Homo sapiens: one gene and its partner. The gene in region 1 interacts genetically with each later gene. Each region holds a gene or a part of one and is shown on either strand. Other genes may lie near its edges.

What was found. Genes that interact genetically often act in the same process or in processes that back each other up.
Region 2: changes in MCM2 (region 1) and ACTL6A together harm fitness less than expected from each alone (positive genetic interaction), as found in Homo sapiens cells (one large-scale study listed by BioGRID).

Annotation. Positions count from the first base shown.
Region 1 is NC_000003.12:127,618,773-127,622,423, reverse strand, and holds part of MCM2 (DNA replication licensing factor MCM2), read right to left. Parts: intron 3,398-3,651; coding exon 3,146-3,397; intron 1,727-3,145; coding exon 1,544-1,726; intron 1,352-1,543; coding exon 1,196-1,351; intron 762-1,195; coding exon 651-761; 3' UTR 1-650. UniProt on the Homo sapiens protein: Acts as a component of the MCM2-7 complex (MCM complex) which is the replicative helicase essential for 'once per cell cycle' DNA replication initiation and elongation in eukaryotic cells.
Region 2 is NC_000003.12:179,583,305-179,586,955, reverse strand, and holds part of ACTL6A (actin-like protein 6A), read right to left. Parts: intron 3,604-3,651; coding exon 3,508-3,603; intron 411-3,507; coding exon 324-410; intron 1-323.

The DNA of each region.
Region 1 (3,651 bases):
CAACTTTATTAAAAATTAAAACTACAGAAACCAAACCGAATGCACAAATAAGAGAGTGGGGAAACAGACAGGGAGCAATGGCAGCTGATAACTGTGGCGAGTGGATAATCCGCATGACTCACATCCCACCCCTGCGACTGAGGAGCCCAGAACGCTGCGCTGGCACTGTCGTGCCCTCTTCCACCACAGGGGCACAGAAACCTGCAGGAGACTGAAAACGATTACAAACATCTTCAACCAGCTCTCTGGCCAAAGGCAGCAAAAGCAGCCTGAATACGCAACTCACGCCAAGAGGGCAGCAGCTCTCCTGACATCCATGTAAGAAGGCTAACACCTAAACCACACGCAGGCATCCTGAACTCAGCAGCTCTGATCCAAGGTACTGAGTGGAGACAAAGCACTCGGAGGTGGCAAGATGTTCAGCAACCAAGTAAGACACACTGGCAAGGCATCCCACCCAAAGGTGAGAAGCACAAAGCAGGCTTGGAGAAACAAACAGTCATGCCAGGTGCAGCCAGACATCCTGCTATAAGCCCTGACCCTAGTACCCCGAGTTCATCAAGTGCTCTGGTTTTGTGTCCATAAAGCACAGAGGGCACTGACCACCCCAAACCAGAATCCCAAGGAATCCTTATGGATGGCATAGGGCCTCAGAACTGCTGCAGGATCATTTTCCTTTTCAGGTCGTGGCTGAACTTGTTCATCCTGAAGAGCTCACTGTCATAAAATGCAGAGAGGTTGTGGATGTTGATCTGACGAGCCTGCAAGGAGGAAGTGTCCAGTGAGCCATCAGTGGTGTGAGAACAGGCTGTTTCCAGAGCGCCCCAGTTACAGTGCACTTTCAGACACCATCACCTCCATTTATGGGAGGAAAATATCCAGGGGTGGAGAGGCCGATTAAGGGGCTTCAAATCTCTGCTGTACAAGCTGTGCGTGTAAACTGAGACAAGTTACTTGGCTGCCCTGTATCTGTCTCCACCTCTGCACAACAGGAAGGCAGTAACAGGACTCACCTCACTCCCCTGCTGTCAGACTACAGGCACAGAACTGGACTCAACAGACTGTAAGCATTCAATAAATGGCTGTCAACCAAGGCCCACCCACTTCATGACCCATTATGATGGAGCCCCCATCAGGAGACTGGCAGCTCCCAAGTCAGCATACCCCAACCCTCACCTCCCTTCCGGGCCCATACCTTATCCACCAAGTCCTTCTCAGGGACCTCAATAGTGTCCTGCTGGGCCCCAAAGCGGTTGCGCTGATATGTCACCTGCTCTGCCACTAACTGCTTCAGTATGAAGAGCAACAGCTCATTGTTGTCACGCCGGAATGAAAGGTAGCGGGCAAAAGTCTGCAGGAAAAAAGCCTCAGTCAAACACCCGCTCCCACTACGCCTGCCACACTCCCTTTACCCTACGTGCCAGCACCCAGGTCAGACAGGCTGCCGCTCCTGGGTGCACGTCCAGGCCAGAGCCCTGGATACCCACGTGTGGCCTCCTTCACTGAGCTTGCCCATCAGGCCCCTACCTCGGAGCACACCCACCTTGCGCATGCTGCGCATGACGCTGAACTTCTGTGTGTCTATGAAGCTCTCCAGCATCACGCGGATGGCCATGTTGACGTCGTCTTCGATCACATAGTCCCGCAGATGGATGCGCGCGTGGGCCTCCGCCATGCGGATCATGGACTCGATGTGCCGCACCGTAATGGGGATGCTGCCTGTCGCCTGGAGAGAAGCACAGTGTCAGGTCTTTCACGGGCAGGAAAGAGAAGCAAGGAAAATAAAGCAGCGGCACTCTTAGCACCCAGAGCCAAGAAGACCCATCTGACAGTGCCCCAGCAGAAATGCAGAATGCTTGACTGCGCTGCCCAGTGAATGCACACTTCCTATCCCTCCTGGAAATCAGAGGATGCCAGTGGATGCTGCATGCTTACGGCCTGTCACCATCACACCTGCACAGTTCTGCTCCCACCAGCTGACTTCTGTGCATCTCAGAGGCTGTTGTATTTGTGGCCAGCTGTATTGGTTATTGTCACACACTAAATATTGAATAATCCTGTACAATGTAAGTGCAAAAAAAGGTCGTTGTTTGTAGGAAAACTAAATTGAATGATCTGAAAAAACTTGGTAAAGTTAAAAGGCAGAAATTTGAAAAGCTGCTGTGTTGACTGGGTGTGGCTGAGGCAGCAATCTACAAGGACTCGGCATTCCCATGGCTTGCAAGCTGCTTTAAGTTTCCATTCCACTATGAATGAGCCAAAGACCTTGTGTTCATTAGAGTGAAATTTACACAAAGTCAATATGGAACTTAATAAGCACATCAACAATTAAGGCCTTGGCCCTACACTGAGACAAATGAATGCACATTTAAATTTCATCTAAAACAAAATGGTTAAGGTATATATTAATACCTATCATTTAAAAAAATATTTTTTTTTTGAAACAGGGTTTCACTGTGTCACCAAGGCTAGAGTGCAGTGGTGCCATCATAGCTCACTGTAGCCTCGAACTCCTGGGCTCAAGTAGATCTTCCTTCCTTAGCTTCCTGAGTAGCTGGGACTACAGGCACAAACCACCAGGCCCAGCTAAGTTTCAAAACATTTTTTGTAGAGAAAGGGCCTCACTATGTTGCCCAGCCTGGTCTTGAACTCACCTCAAGCAATCTTCCTGCCTTGGCCTCCCAAAGTGCTGGGATTACAGGCATGAATCACTGTACCCAACTTTCATTTTTTGTTTTTGTTTTTGAGATGGAGTCTCACTCTGTCACCCAGGCTGGAGTGCAGTGGTGCGATCTCAGCTCACTGCACCCTCCGCCTCCCGGGTTCAAGCGATTCTCCTGCCTCAGCCTCCTGAGAAGCTGGGATTACAGGCATGTGCCACCACACCCGGCTAATTTTTGGGTTTCACCATGTTGGTCAGGCTGGTCTCAAACTCCTGACATCGTGATCCTCCTGCCTCGGCCTCCCAAAGTACTGGGATTACAGGCGTGAGCCACTGTGCCTGGCACCTACATTTTTTTTTTAATGCCTCCCTGCTCTGGCACCTTTTGGCCTGACTGACCACCACCCCCGCTGCATTGGTCAGAAGGCTCACACTGCACTTCCTTCTCTGCATAGCACCTCCCGGCTCTGCCTGGGCTCTCACCATAGATTCTTTCCTCAGGTCACTGTACATCTTGGCCACCTTGTCCTGGTCCATCTGGTTGAGCTTCGGGTGGACCCTCTCCTTGGCGTAGATGATGTACTTCTTCAGGACCTCCTGGGGCAGGGGCTCCACGCCATACGTGTTGGGCATGGCGGGCTCAGCAGCGCTGCCATTGGCCAGCCCCTCCTCCTCCTTGTTGCTGGGGTGGTGTCTGACGTGGCTGCCCACCACGAAGCGGGCCAGCATCTCGTCCTAAGATAAGCCATGAGAGGGTGGGTCTGATTGTGGGTGTGCGTGGCTTTGGGGAGGTCAGTGGCTGGAGAAGGGCTGAGTGTGCCCTACAAGGGTGACACTCTTTCAACAAGACTGACTACACTGACCATGTGCCAGGCAGTTCTGGGTGTGGGTGGCAAACCAGACAATGGGACAGAGTCCCCACAGGGCTCATCTCCACAAGGGGACAGGAGACAAATAGTCTTAAAAATTAATTATGGAAAGTAATGCTC
Region 2 (3,651 bases), about 52 Mb from region 1:
CAATGTTTTCATTTTAAATGCACTCCAGACAAGCCCTGACCAGTGCCAATGGGGGTATTATTAGAAAAGGCATGCATACATTAACATATTTCCACCTCTGTTTGAGAGGGGACATTGAAATTAGGCTGACAAATGTCCACTAATTAGGCAGAGGCATTTTGTTACATCAGAACACATAAAACTGGTTATTCCATTAGGTCTTCCACTCATTTGACAGTTATAAAATGCACAGACAAATGAAGCACTGGAATTATTTTTTGTATTTTTACTAAATTTAGTATAATTCAGTAAGAATATTTTTGCAAAGTAGCTCATCTACTAACCAAAGAGGCTAGAATGGAGCCGCCAATCCATGAGCTAAACCTCCGTTCCACTGTTGTATTATTTGCAATCAATTTCAACCGCATACTCTGAAATAGAAGAATATGCATTAGTACAATCAAATCTTGTGACTCAACTTAGAAAATTCTTTTTTTTTTTTTTTTTTTCAAATAGAGACAGGGTCTTCCTCGCCATATTGTCCAGGCTGGTCTTCACATTTGCACTCAAGCAATCGGCCCATCTCAGCCTCCCAAAGTGCTGGGATTACATGCATGAGCCACTTGCACCCAGCCAGGAAATTCAATTTTGACAGACTTCATAATGGCTCCCTGTGGTTCAAACACTGATTAAAATACGGTAATTTTGAAATAGCCAAGATAACAAGCATAGGTTAGACTAATGTACAGACTTTTAAAAGTACTTTGATTATGGCTTTTAACATGCGATTATATGATGAGAAAACATACAAACTTTAAAAAGCTGCATACTGAAGTATAGCATTCACAATTTCTATCCTAAAATAGCAAATCCACACCTAACACTATAAATCTGGTGCTGTGCTAAGTCTTTATTATTTCATTTCATCCAACACCAACCTAATTATCATCCCAATCTGTCTCCCTTTCTGTAGTCCTCCCCAACCTTCTAACTGCTTCCTTTCTAGGCTTTCATGCTATCCTAATCCCTCCTTAGTTCACCCCAACCCTTCTAAATAAAAACACAACCATCAGATATCAGGTTAGTTTTTTATTCATACTATTTCCTTCCAAATTAGTGCTTCTGTTCTGACTCTCATTTTCTCTTGATAACACAATTTTATTGCACAGTACTATCCCCTATATCTCACTTCCTATATGAAGAGGTTTTTTTCTTTCTCTTACCAAGGAATCTGCCTCTGGGGACAGTTCTCAAGTTGTTGACATCTTCCTATTATTCTATAAATGAACATATTTTTGGGGCTTTTCAAAGTGAAATAAGTATGTGTGCAGCAAGGGTGGGTAGAGTATGGGATATGGGTGGGTAGAAGGTACTGGGGATAGGGTAAACATGGGTTTTTGTAGGTAAGAAAGATTGGTAACTATTAAATAGAATTTTTTTCCTGTTCTTTCAGAGATTGTTATCACCTCCTAAAGGACAAGGATAGTTTCTAACTGGCCTTGACCACAGCTTGGGCCATGCTTATCTGTATTCATTATTCAGGGACTTTCTATGAAATCTAATCATTAGTATTATAGACCGGTGCAGTGGCTCACGCCTATAATCCCAGCACTTTGGGAGGCCGAGGCGGGTGGATCACCTGAGGTCGGGAGTTTGAGATCAGCCTGACCAGCACGGAGAAACTGCATCTCTACTAAAAATAAAAAATTAGCCGGGTGTGGTGGAACATGCCTGTAATCCCAGCTACTTGGGAAGCTGAGGTAGGAGAATCACTTGAACCCAGGAGGCGGAGGTTACAGTGAGCTGATATCGTGCCACTGCACTCCAGCCTAGGGGACAAGAGCAAGACTCCATCTCAAGTAAATAAATAAATAAATAAATCTCCAATCAATCAATCAATCTAATGATTAGTATTATAATTCAGGTATGCTCTAGATCTCCAAGAATTTAGAAAATACAAGGCAGATGTCAACTGTGTGCCTATATATTTAGATATCACTTTTAATAATAGAAATGTGGCACACGTAAAACATTATTTTATATGGGAAGCTAAAAGACTATTAAATATACAGATTTATAGATATTGTTAGGGCATATGTAACCACTAATAAGGTTTTTTAAATGTAATCTTCAGTGCAGAACACCTTACAAAAAAAGCACTTGAAGTTTTGTTGTTGTTGTTTTTTTTTCCTGAGCCAGAGTCTTGCTTTGTCACCCAGACTGGAATGCAGTGGCATGATCTCGGCTTACTGCAACCTCCGCCTCCTGGGTTCAAGCGATTCTGCTGTCTCAGCCTCCCAAGTAGCTGGGATTACAGGCACGTGCCACCGTGTCCGGCTAATTTTTGTTATTTTTTTTTTTTTTTGAGATGGAGTCTTGCTCTGTTGGAATGCAGTGGTGTGATCTCAGTTCACTGCAACCTCCACCTCCCGGGTTCAAGCAATTCTCCTGCCTCAGCCTCCCGAGTAGCTGGAATTAAGAGGCTCCCGCCACCAGGCCCAGCTAATTTTTGTATTCTTAGTAGAGATGGGGTTTCACCATGTTGGCCAGGCTGGTCTCCCTGACCTCATAATCCATCTGCCTCGGCCTCCCAAAGTGCTGGGATTATAGGCGTGAGCCACCACGCCCAGCTGATAGAAATTTTAAAGTTAAAAGATTATAACTGTCATTCTGTTACCGAAGTACTATATAAATTACCTTCTCAAACCGAGTTTTTCTATTCTTTTAAAAGTTATTATAATATACCCACTGATCTTTTTAAAACAAACATGAGCTCATCAGTCCACTGCTAGATTTTATCCTGTGAAGAAGGAGGTATTTTCCCCTAGAGATTCAGCATAGCTCCACTGACACCTTGAGGCTTCTAGCCTCAAGAACTATAAGACAACAAATTTCTGTTGTTTGAAGCCACTAACATGTACTTTGTTACGGCAGCTCTAGGAAACTAATCCATCTTTCTAGCCATATTGCTTTCCCCACTTACGTAAAGACTAGAAGCCAACTACTTTGAATTACTGGAACATACCTGTCTTCTCTTAGTATTTTTGTAAATGGTTTTATTCCCTCCATCTAGATATCCTTTCATAAATTAGCAATGAGTTGAACTATTCATTCAAACTATAGCTTCTTCAGGAGGCTATCCTCTGATACTCCTAGAGAGTTAAGTAGTGGCTTCTTGGTGTTCCCAACAGCACCTCGTTCATGACATACTGAATTGTTGAGCATGTTACAGTCATCATTTTCTGCATGTCTAACCATCCTAGTAGACTGAGCCCTTGGTGTGCAGGGACTAGTGCCTAGCAGACTATACATATTTAAATATTAATAAATGAGATTCAAATAATTTAAGAGAAACTAATAGATGTCAACTAGGAAAACGATTAAAGGATATTAACTTTAGTGATACTATACCAGGCACACACAAAATATCATGTATCTATTGAAAAATGGACGCTTATCTACAAAATTACACCATCAGTGAGGAAATATATGACTGAAGAATACCATTAAAGAACAAACAGAACTTACTGGAGGAGTTTTCTGAGACAGCTCTCTATTCAACCTGTCAGTAAAACTCTGTATTAGTGTGTTTCCTCCTGCCACTATTACACTGCCATAGAGACCCTAGGATAAAAATACAAGAAAAATCAATTAGTTCCATATGTTTCCAAA